Linked DNA regions of Homo sapiens: region 2 is linked to region 1. The links come from fine-mapping of genetic effects on gene expression. A gene starts in region 1. The other region holds a variant in brackets. All regions are shown on one strand. Distances are between the middles of the regions. Region 1 holds the start of UNC13D (unc-13 homolog D). Region 2 overlaps UNK (unk zinc finger).

Region 1 (4,378 bases):
TCTGTCCCATCTGACCTACTGTCCACCTAACGTGCCTGGAGATGGGCTTCTCCTCTAGTCTTTGCCCAGGGCCAAACCCCCTCCCCTGAGCCAGGACGACCTACTCATCTCATTGTCTGGGGCAGACCCTGCTACCCAGGAAAGACCTGGATAGAGTGGGGGCTGGAGCACGGCCACGTACAGGATGAAGGTCTCGTCCCAGACGGGGTTGAGTGTCTGGGTGATGACCTGCGTGCGGTGGGTCTCCTCCTCGGGGATGGTGTGCCTCACCACAGCCTTCTGCCGATGCCGGGACCCGGGGCTGCCCCCTGGCACACCTACCCCCTGCTCAATGCCCAGCAGGCAGTAGGGGTCGCTGAACCCTGTGGAGGAGTGGGGAAGACGAGGCAGCCAGGGAGTCGGCTGGGTCCCTGGGAGAGGCCCTCATCACCCCCGCCCGGGGCTGAGCCTCCTCCGGGGGAGAGGGAAGGGGACCAGCAGCATGGGGGGCCAGCGCTACAGGGCTTCTTGGAAGTGGGTGCTCCCGCCAAGAGTCCTGGGCCAGGCTGTGATGGGAGAGGAAGGAGCCAGGAAGAAGCCCCTTGGGGACCCCACCCCATGCTCACCACTGACATCTTTGCCCAGAATGCCCTTGGCCTGTTTCACTGTTGCCTTCAGACAAAATATTGGCTTCTGGAGGGACAGGAGGGATGGCCTGAGTCCCTGAGGGGGCTGGGCTTCCCAGGCCCCTCCTTGCCCAGGGGGACCCTGGCCCCAGGTTACCTCAAGCTCCCTGACCCGCTGCAGTGTCTGCTGGTGCTCCTCGGGCTCCACGTGGAAGGCCTGGTGGGGAGGCAGGCGGGTGGGTGGCTGGGGGCACCAGACAGGGCAGCTGCAGGAAGGGGGGTGGGGTGGGAGCCGGGCTCACCTCCTGCAGGTATCGCAGCAGCTCAGAGGCCTCCGTCACATGGTTGGGCTCAGGATGACCCAGGCGGTGCAAGACAGTGTAGAGTGCGTCCTCGTAGAGCAGGGCCCGCTAAGACACACGGGGTCACCTTGGGGACCCCACCAGCCACCCCTGGCACCAACACCTCTCGCCATGGGCAGGACAAGGGCGGCTTGTGCAGCGGAGGGAGTTGAGACCCAGGAGTCCCCTCCCCACCGCAAGTTGCTTGCTGCCATCAGCGTCGGCCGGCAGGAGGACACACAGCCGCCCTCCCCACCTCTCTGCACCCCAGCACTCTGACTCTTACCTGCTCGGGGGAGAAGTGGTGGGATGGAGGCTGGATCTGCAGAGCAAGGTGGAAAGGCAGTGTCCCGGGAGGCCCAGAGCAGGCTCAGATGGACAGGAATGGCTCCTCTGAGGCCTGATCCAGGCCAAGGGTATGGGGGCCCCAGCACCCCGGCCTCCAGCCCCAGTGATGCCCCGCACCTGTTCCCCCAGCAGGCCTCCTGGAGGTCCGTCCCTGGGCCCGCCGTGGCTGAGGTCCATGGGTGCCCAGCAGCGCGAGCCCTCCGCACCCGCACCCCACCTCCCTCCCTTCCCCAGAGGAAACAGCTCTGCTTATCAGTGGCGGCTGCTCCTCACCCAGCAGCGGAAGTGAGGCTCGGCAGCGGAGGTGAGGGGGGTGCCACGTCGGCCTGGGGGTCTGCTGCTCCCCGAACAGCTCACCCCACAGCAGGGACACCCCCACCTAATGGAGTCGGCTCTTCTGAAGCTGGAGGAGTAGGGGATGGGGTCAGGCCAACCGGGAGGGAGGGGTTCTGAGAGCCTCAGACCACAGGGCCTGAGGCCCACAGTGGCCCAGAGTCCATCTGGCAGCCCCTGCTCTGCTGGCCCAGGGGGCTCTCCCCAGGGTGGAGTAGGCAGGGGAGGGTCGCTGGTCCCCAGTCCCAGCCTTCGAGAGGTGGGGCCAGACAGCAGGGCACCCGTACCCGAGACCACAGTGCTCCCCAAGGCCAGCTCTCTCCCCAGTGAGGTCACTCCTACCTCCGGGGCCATTTGGGGCGGGGGATCCTGTAGATCTCTGACTCTGCGGCGCCTTATCTTGATGGCCTGGCGCAAGAAGGGAGGGCGCTGCTGCGGATGGGAGAGGAGTGTCGCCATGGTGGCCTTCTCTGCCCTTCCCTGTCCGCTGGTGCTGGGTGAAGACAGCGAAGCCACAGGATTATGCAAAGAGCCTGGGGCTGCCACCCTCTGTCAGGGGAAGTTTTAGGGAGGGTGGCTGGGAGGGACGGAAGGGTGAGGGTTTCACCGCTTCGGAGAGGCAGTCTCCCAGGCCCCCTGCACCTTCCCCAGCTGGGATCCCTACAGGACCCTCCTCTGGCTGGAGCAGAAGGTGGACCCCGTGGGCAGGCCTGGCCCCGCCCCACCCTCCTACAGAGGCCCTGGGAAGGGGACAACGCTCTCAGCAGGGGGCGGGGGGGCCCAGAACAGGCGGGCAGCATCCTGCCCCATCCATGTGCTGTGCCCAGGCTGGGCTGAACCCTGAGAGAAGCTGACCTGGGCCCGGGGGGGTTCTCACCCCACTTCCTCGAGTGCGTCCAGACGTGGGGCGGGGCGGGGTGGGGTGGGGTGTGGTGGCGCCCAGGGTGGGGGCTCCCAAGAGGCGTCTCCCTGGAGGACAGCCAGTTGCTCAGCCTGCCTGGCCCCACAGGTGACATTCCTTGGAGATGACGGGGCCAAGCTGTGCTGGGCAGGGACAGCCCTGTGCCCCTGCCCCCACCTTGGCAGTCAGGACAGTGCTCCCTTCAGACACCCTTGAAGGGGGCTTAGCCAAGTCCCAGAGAGCTCTGGGCCAGGCTGGCCAGGAGGAGGAGGCAGAGGGGCTGCTGCCCGATCTCTCCTGAGGACAGACTTGGCTCCCGGGGGACAGGAAAATGCGCCTCAGCATGGGGCTTTCCTAGAGCTCTGTGGCCTGCCCACCCTGTGCCCAGTGCTGGGCTGGGGGACTTGCGGGCGTGTGGGCCTGGTCACGGCCTTTGGCCATTTCCCACCCTCCTGTCCCTTCAAGTTCACAGCAGGGCACGTGACGTGGGTGGTGGCAAGCCGGCTTGGCTACCTCAGTGTCCCTGTCACAGGTCCTGACGTGCTCCAGGGCTGACTCGGCCTCCTCCCTCCAGCAACCAGGACTTAGGCCAGGGCTGCCATTCCTCGAGGAGCCAGCAGGGGACAAGGTGGCAGCCCCAACTCCTCCCTTCAAGGCCAACTCTGGGCCACATCCACCTCTGTCCCAGCCAGGCCCTGGGGACTCAGTGGGGGAGGGACACAGCTGCTGAGCGACAACCGTTAAGAACCAGCTCCAGAGGCCAGAGCTGTCTTGGGGACCAGACAGGCTGGCTGGGCCGTGAGAATGGGGATCCTCCCATGGGAGGGAACCGTCCCAGAAGTCTCCAGGGCCCTCAGCGGCCAGACGGCTCTCCTTCCGGAAGAGACCCCCGGGTCACCACACGCAGAGCCAGAAAGGGTCCAGTTATTTCATTTTTACTATTTCACATTTTCAGCAAACAAATCGAGGTGCAAACAGGGTTTATTTCACATTAATATATTAACTGGATTTTTTGTCAAATAAATAGGGAATTCTCTTTAAATAACCATCTCCTCACTTCATGGCCAGTCCAGGGACAAACAAGAGTGAATGTTAGCGCATCCAGGGGCACAAAGCTTAAGGGGAAGAAGCAGGCTGGGGGGCTGGTGGCAGGTCCCGGCCAGCACACAGGGTCAGGGGCCCTTGTTCCCGGCCCCACCCAGCAGCCACCAAGTGGACAGACATGCATTCTCTGGTTCCAGTCAGGAAGCTCCTTCTAGAAGGAAGTGAGAGGTGAGGGAAAGCAAATTCCAGAAACACCAGCAAAAGGCAGAAGGGCTTCCTCCCAGCCTCGGCGGCCCTGCCCCGACGCCACCCAAGCCCTGGAAGCTCATTTTACAGCTTCAAAAGTCACACAGGGTGGCAACAACATGACCCAGGACAGGGAAGGGAAGGAAGGGTGGCGGGGGCTGCAGCTGGACCCTGGCTGAGTGGAATGCGGGCGCGGTGGCCTTCTGAGACCAGCACAGACCAGCAGAGGGAATGTGAGCAGGGTCTGGCAGGGCCCGGGAAGACACCTGGCTGGTCTGAAGTGGCTCATGAGGCTGAGTGTAGCAGTGGGTGCCAGACTGAGGGAGCTGGACTGCGGTGGAGGAGGTGGCCAGAGAGTCCCTTCGAGGGGAGAAGCTGAGAGTGAAACAGGAACAGGGGATGCTCCGTGCTCCCAGAAGAGCCCCAGACGGTGAGGGAGGTACGCTGGGCAGCACTGTGGGCTCCGGGCTGGCATGGGAAGCTGGGCGGCACCTCTCCCGAGGCCGGGGGCCCTAATGTCCCACAATGCTAGTTCCTGGTAATTGTTTATGATCAGACCT
Region 2 (4,378 bases), 43 kb before region 1:
GGCACGGTGGCTCACGCCTGTAATCCCAGCACTTTGGGAGGCTGAGGCAGGCAGATCATGAGGTCAGGAGATCGAGACCATCCTGGCTAACACAGTGAAACCCCGTCTCTACTAAAAATACAAAAAAATTAGCCAGGCGTGGTGGCGGGCGCCTGTAGTCCCAGCTACTCAGAGGCTGAGGCAGGAGAATGGTGCAAACCCAGGAGGCGGAGCTTGCAGTGAGCCGAGATCGGGCCACTGGACTCCAGTCTGGGCGATAGTGCGAGACTCCATCTCAAAAACAAAAAAAAAAAAGAGGGTTGCTGGAGGTCAGGAGTTTGAGAGCAGCCTGGGCAACATGGCGAAACCTCATCTCTACAAAAAAATACAAAAATTAGCTGGGTGGGGTGGCAGGTGCCTGTAGTCCCAACTACTCGGGAGGCTGAGGTGGGAGGATTGCTTGAGCCTGGGAGGCTGCAGTGACCTGTAATTGCACTACTGCACTTCAGCCTGGGTGACAGAATGAGACCCTTTTTCAAAAAAGTTAATCTGTAATGGTCTCTGCACATTCCCAGCACCAATGACAAAAGAGCCAGATGCCAGCAACCGACTCTGTGTGTGAGGCGGAAGATCTCAATTTTAGTGTTCAGGTGAGGAACAAAGCTGAGCAGACGTGATGTGGAAGAGAGAGCTTACTGAGTTAATTGCCAGGAGATGTATCTAAGTCAGAGGTTGGAGTTGCTCCTCTGTGTTTTGCTGGGTTCGTGCAGAGCTGCTTTTGTACCAGGTTTCTACCACTTGGGGTGCTTTTTGCTTTTCTTTTCACTTCCCACATCTCAAGCACCTGCTGTGGGTCAGCTCTGTGCAGGGGTACAAAGATGATCGATGTGGCAGTGTACAAAACAGTCAGAATCCACTGTGGTGGCTGTACCAGCAGTATTCACATAGTGCAGTAGGAACATGGAAGCGGGGGCAGGCAGGGCCAGGGAACCCTCAGGGTGATCTAGACCCAGGGGACAACATGATCAAAAGTATGGAAATGTAAGGCTGTGATGTGATGGGGCATACCAACTGTTTAGCGCAGAGGTCACCTGTAATCCCAGCACTTAGGGAGCAGAGGCCAGAGGATAGCTAGAGCCCAGGAGTTTGAGACCTGCTCAGGCAATACAGCGAGCCCCCTTTCTCCACAAAAAGGGGAAAAAAAAGACAAAAAAACCCAAGTGTAGAGCAGAGGTCAGCAAACCGGCTTGCATGCCAAATCCAGCCTGCTGCCTGCTTTTTTAAGGCCCACAAGGTAAGAATTGTTTTCACTTTCTTTTGAGACAGGTCTCAGTCTATCCTCCTGGCTGGAGTGCAGTGGCACAATCTTGGCTCACTGCAGTCTCGACCTCCCAGGCTCAAAGAATCCTCCTGCCTCAGCCTCCTGAGTAGCTGGGACTATAGGTGTGCACCACCACACCCGGCTAATTCTTGTATTTTTTTGGTAGAGACAGCGTTTTGCCACATTGCCCAGGCTGGTCTCCAATTCCTGAGCTCAAGCGATCCACCCGCCTTGGCCTCTCAGAGTGCTGGGATTACAGGCATGAGCCACTGTGCCCTCCCTTCACATTTTTTCAATGGTTGAAAAGATATTTCGTGATGTGACGATTGTATGAATTTCAAAGAGTCCCTAAATAAAGCTTCCTTTGGGCTGGGCGCGGTGGCTCATGCCTGTAATCCCAGCACTTTGGGAGGCCGAGGCGGGCGGATCATGAGGTCAGGAGATTGAGACCATCCTGGCTAATAAAGTGAAACCCCGCCTCTCCTAAAAATAAAAAAATTAGCTGGGCATGGTGGCGGGCGCCTGTAATCCCAGCTACTCGGGAGGCTGAGGCAGGAGAATGGCATGAACCCAGGAGGCAGAGCTTGCAGTGAGCTGAGATCGCGCCACTGCACTCCAGCCTGGGTGACAGAGCGAGACTCTGTCTCAAAAAATAAAAAATAAATAAAATAACGCTTCCTTTGAACCTGCACTCATTCGTTTCTCTGTTGTCTTGGCTGCTTGTGCACTTCAACTACAGACTCAAGTAGTTGCAACAGGAGACTGACTATATGTGATGCTCATTGCTTCTCATTGCTGCACGTGTCAGCATACCACATTTTTTGTTTTTTTTGAGACGGAGTGTCACTCTGTCGCCCAGGCTGGAGTGCAGTGGCGTGATCTGGGCTCACTGCAAGCTCTGTCTCCCGGGTTCATACCATTCTCCTGCCTCAGCCTCCTGAGTAGCTGGGACTACAGGCGCCAGCCACCACGCCCGGCTAATTTTTTGTATTTTTAGTAGAGACGGGGTTTCACCATGTTAGCCAGGATGGTCTCGATCTCCTGACCTCATGATCCGCCCGCCT[C/T]GACCTCCCAAAGTGCTGGGATTACCGGTGTGAGCCACTGCACCCAGCCAGCATACCATGTTTTATACGTTCTTCATCACCAGTGCATACCTCTTATGTCAAAAGAAGAGAGGAAGAGAAAAATGCACTTCAAGTATTTTACTTTTAAGGCTCGGTGGCATGTGGATTATTTGTTAACACATTTGGTGGCAAAGCACCCAATAATAAAGATAGCTGTGACTGGGCATGGTGGCTTATGCTTGTAATCCCAGCACTTTGGGAGACCGAGGCAGGAGGACACCTTGAGCCCAGGAGTCAAGATTGCAATGAGCTGTGATTACACTACTGCACTCCAGCCTGGTAACGGAGTGAGACCCTGTCTCTTTATTTAAATAAAGAAGGAAATATTCCTTTAAAATTTATTTTTCCTTTTTTTTTTGAGATCACTCTGTCGCCCAGGCTGGAGTGAAGTGGCATGATCTCTGCTCATTGCAGCCTCCACCTCCTGGGCTCAAGCGATTCTCCTGCCTCAGCCTCCTGAGTAGCTGGGACTACAGGCGCCCGCCACCACACCTGGCTAATTTGTATTTTTAGTAGAGACGGGGTTTCACCATATTGGCCAGGTTGGTCTTGAACTACTGACCTTGTGATCCACCCGTCTCAGCCTCGCAAAGTGTTGGGATTACAGGTGTGAGCCACTGCACCCGGCTCCCCCCAGCCTTTTTTTTTTTTTTGGAGACAGAGTCTTGCTCTGATGCCCAGGCTGGAGTACAGTGGTGCGCTCAGCTCATTGCAACCTCAACTTCCCTGGTTCAAGTGATTCTTGTGCCTCAGCCACCCAAGTAGTTGGGATTATAGGTGTGAGCCACCACGCCTGGGTAATTTTTTGTATTTTTAGTAGAGATGGGATTCTCCATGTTGGCCAGGCTGGCGTCAAACTCCTGACCCTAAGTGATTTGCCCGCCTTGGCCTCCCAAAGGGCTGGGATTACAGGAGTGAGCCACTGCGCCTGACCTAAAAATTTTTTTCTGACCATTGCTTGCTTTTCTGGGAATCTTGTGATAAGTGCTTTGTCTGATAATGCTGATGGATTTTTTCAGCACAGATGTCTTTTTTTTTTTTTTTTTTTTTTTTTTTTTTTTTTGAGACAGGGTCTCGCTCTGTCACCCAGGCTGGCATGCAGTGGTGCAACCGTAGCTCACTGCAACCTCAAACTCTTGGGTTTAGTGATCCTTTCACTTCAGCCTCCCAAGTAGCTGGGACTACAGGTGCATGCCTGGCTTAGTTTTTTAAAAAAATGTTTTAAAACTGTTTTAGTGATGGGGTCTTGCTATGTTGCCCTCAAACTCCTAGGCTCAGGTGATCCTCCCACCTCCGCCTCCTGTGTTGCTGGGATTACGGGGATGAGCCACTGCATGCAGCTAGGAATATTTCCTTACAGCAGAATTTCTTCACAAGAATTAAAACTACATTTTTGTAGTTTCAGTTGCAGGCTACAACTGAAGCAGGTTTCTGAGTGGCTCATTTGTTAGCTAGGCAAGGAAAGCCATTTACTGATGTTGAGTTAATTAAATTGTGTTTGACTGCAGCAGCTGGAGAAGTGTGTCCAGATAAAACACATTTTTGTTTGAGAGTGTTAGCTTTTCAGCAGGAACAGTGTCTCAAAATGTTGAGGACATTAGGAGCAATGTCAGTAGTCAATTAAAAAAGAAGGCCGGGCACCATGGCCCACACCTGTAATCCCAGCACTTTGAGAGGCCAAGGTGGGCGGATCACGAGGTCAGGAGATTGAGACCACCCTGGCCAACATGGTGAAACCTCGTCTCTACTAAAAATACAAAAATTACAGGCCGGACGCGGTGGCTCACACCTGTAATCCCAGCACTTTGAGAGGCCAAGGTGGGCGGATCACGAGGTCAGGAGATTGAGACCACCCTGGCCAACATGGTGAAACCTCGTCTCTACTAAAAATACAAAAATTACAGGCCGGACGCGGTGGCTCACACCTGTAATCCCAGCACTTTGGGAGGCCAAG

Evidence for each region. PIP is the estimated chance that this variant, and not a neighbour inherited with it, causes the effect. A credible set is the group of variants that fine-mapping cannot tell apart.
Region 2: its variant is the best candidate, but not a certain one, in a credible set for the expression of UNC13D in whole blood (INTERVAL, PIP 0.67).

Annotation. Positions count from the first base shown.
Region 1 is chr17:75,842,252-75,846,629 of GRCh38, forward strand. UNC13D (unc-13 homolog D) reads right to left here and starts at 2,153. Exons shown (of 32, transcript NM_199242.3): 1 at 1,970-2,153; 2 at 1,233-1,268; 3 at 908-1,015; 4 at 763-822; 5 at 606-672; 6 at 182-362. The coding sequence starts at 2,086. WBP2 (WW domain binding protein 2) reads right to left here. Exons shown (of 8, transcript NM_012478.4): 8 at 3,448-4,378. RefSeq lists silencers at 1,423-1,482, 2,333-2,392, 2,403-2,562 and enhancers at 1,670-2,374, 2,793-2,872, 3,003-3,092.
Region 2 is chr17:75,798,790-75,803,167 of GRCh38, forward strand. All of the region lies in intron 1 of UNK (unk zinc finger), which reads left to right. Among named protein-coding and RNA genes, the nearest start is that of UNK, 16 kb to the left of the region's middle. The variant C/T (reference allele first, on the strand shown) is at 2,365.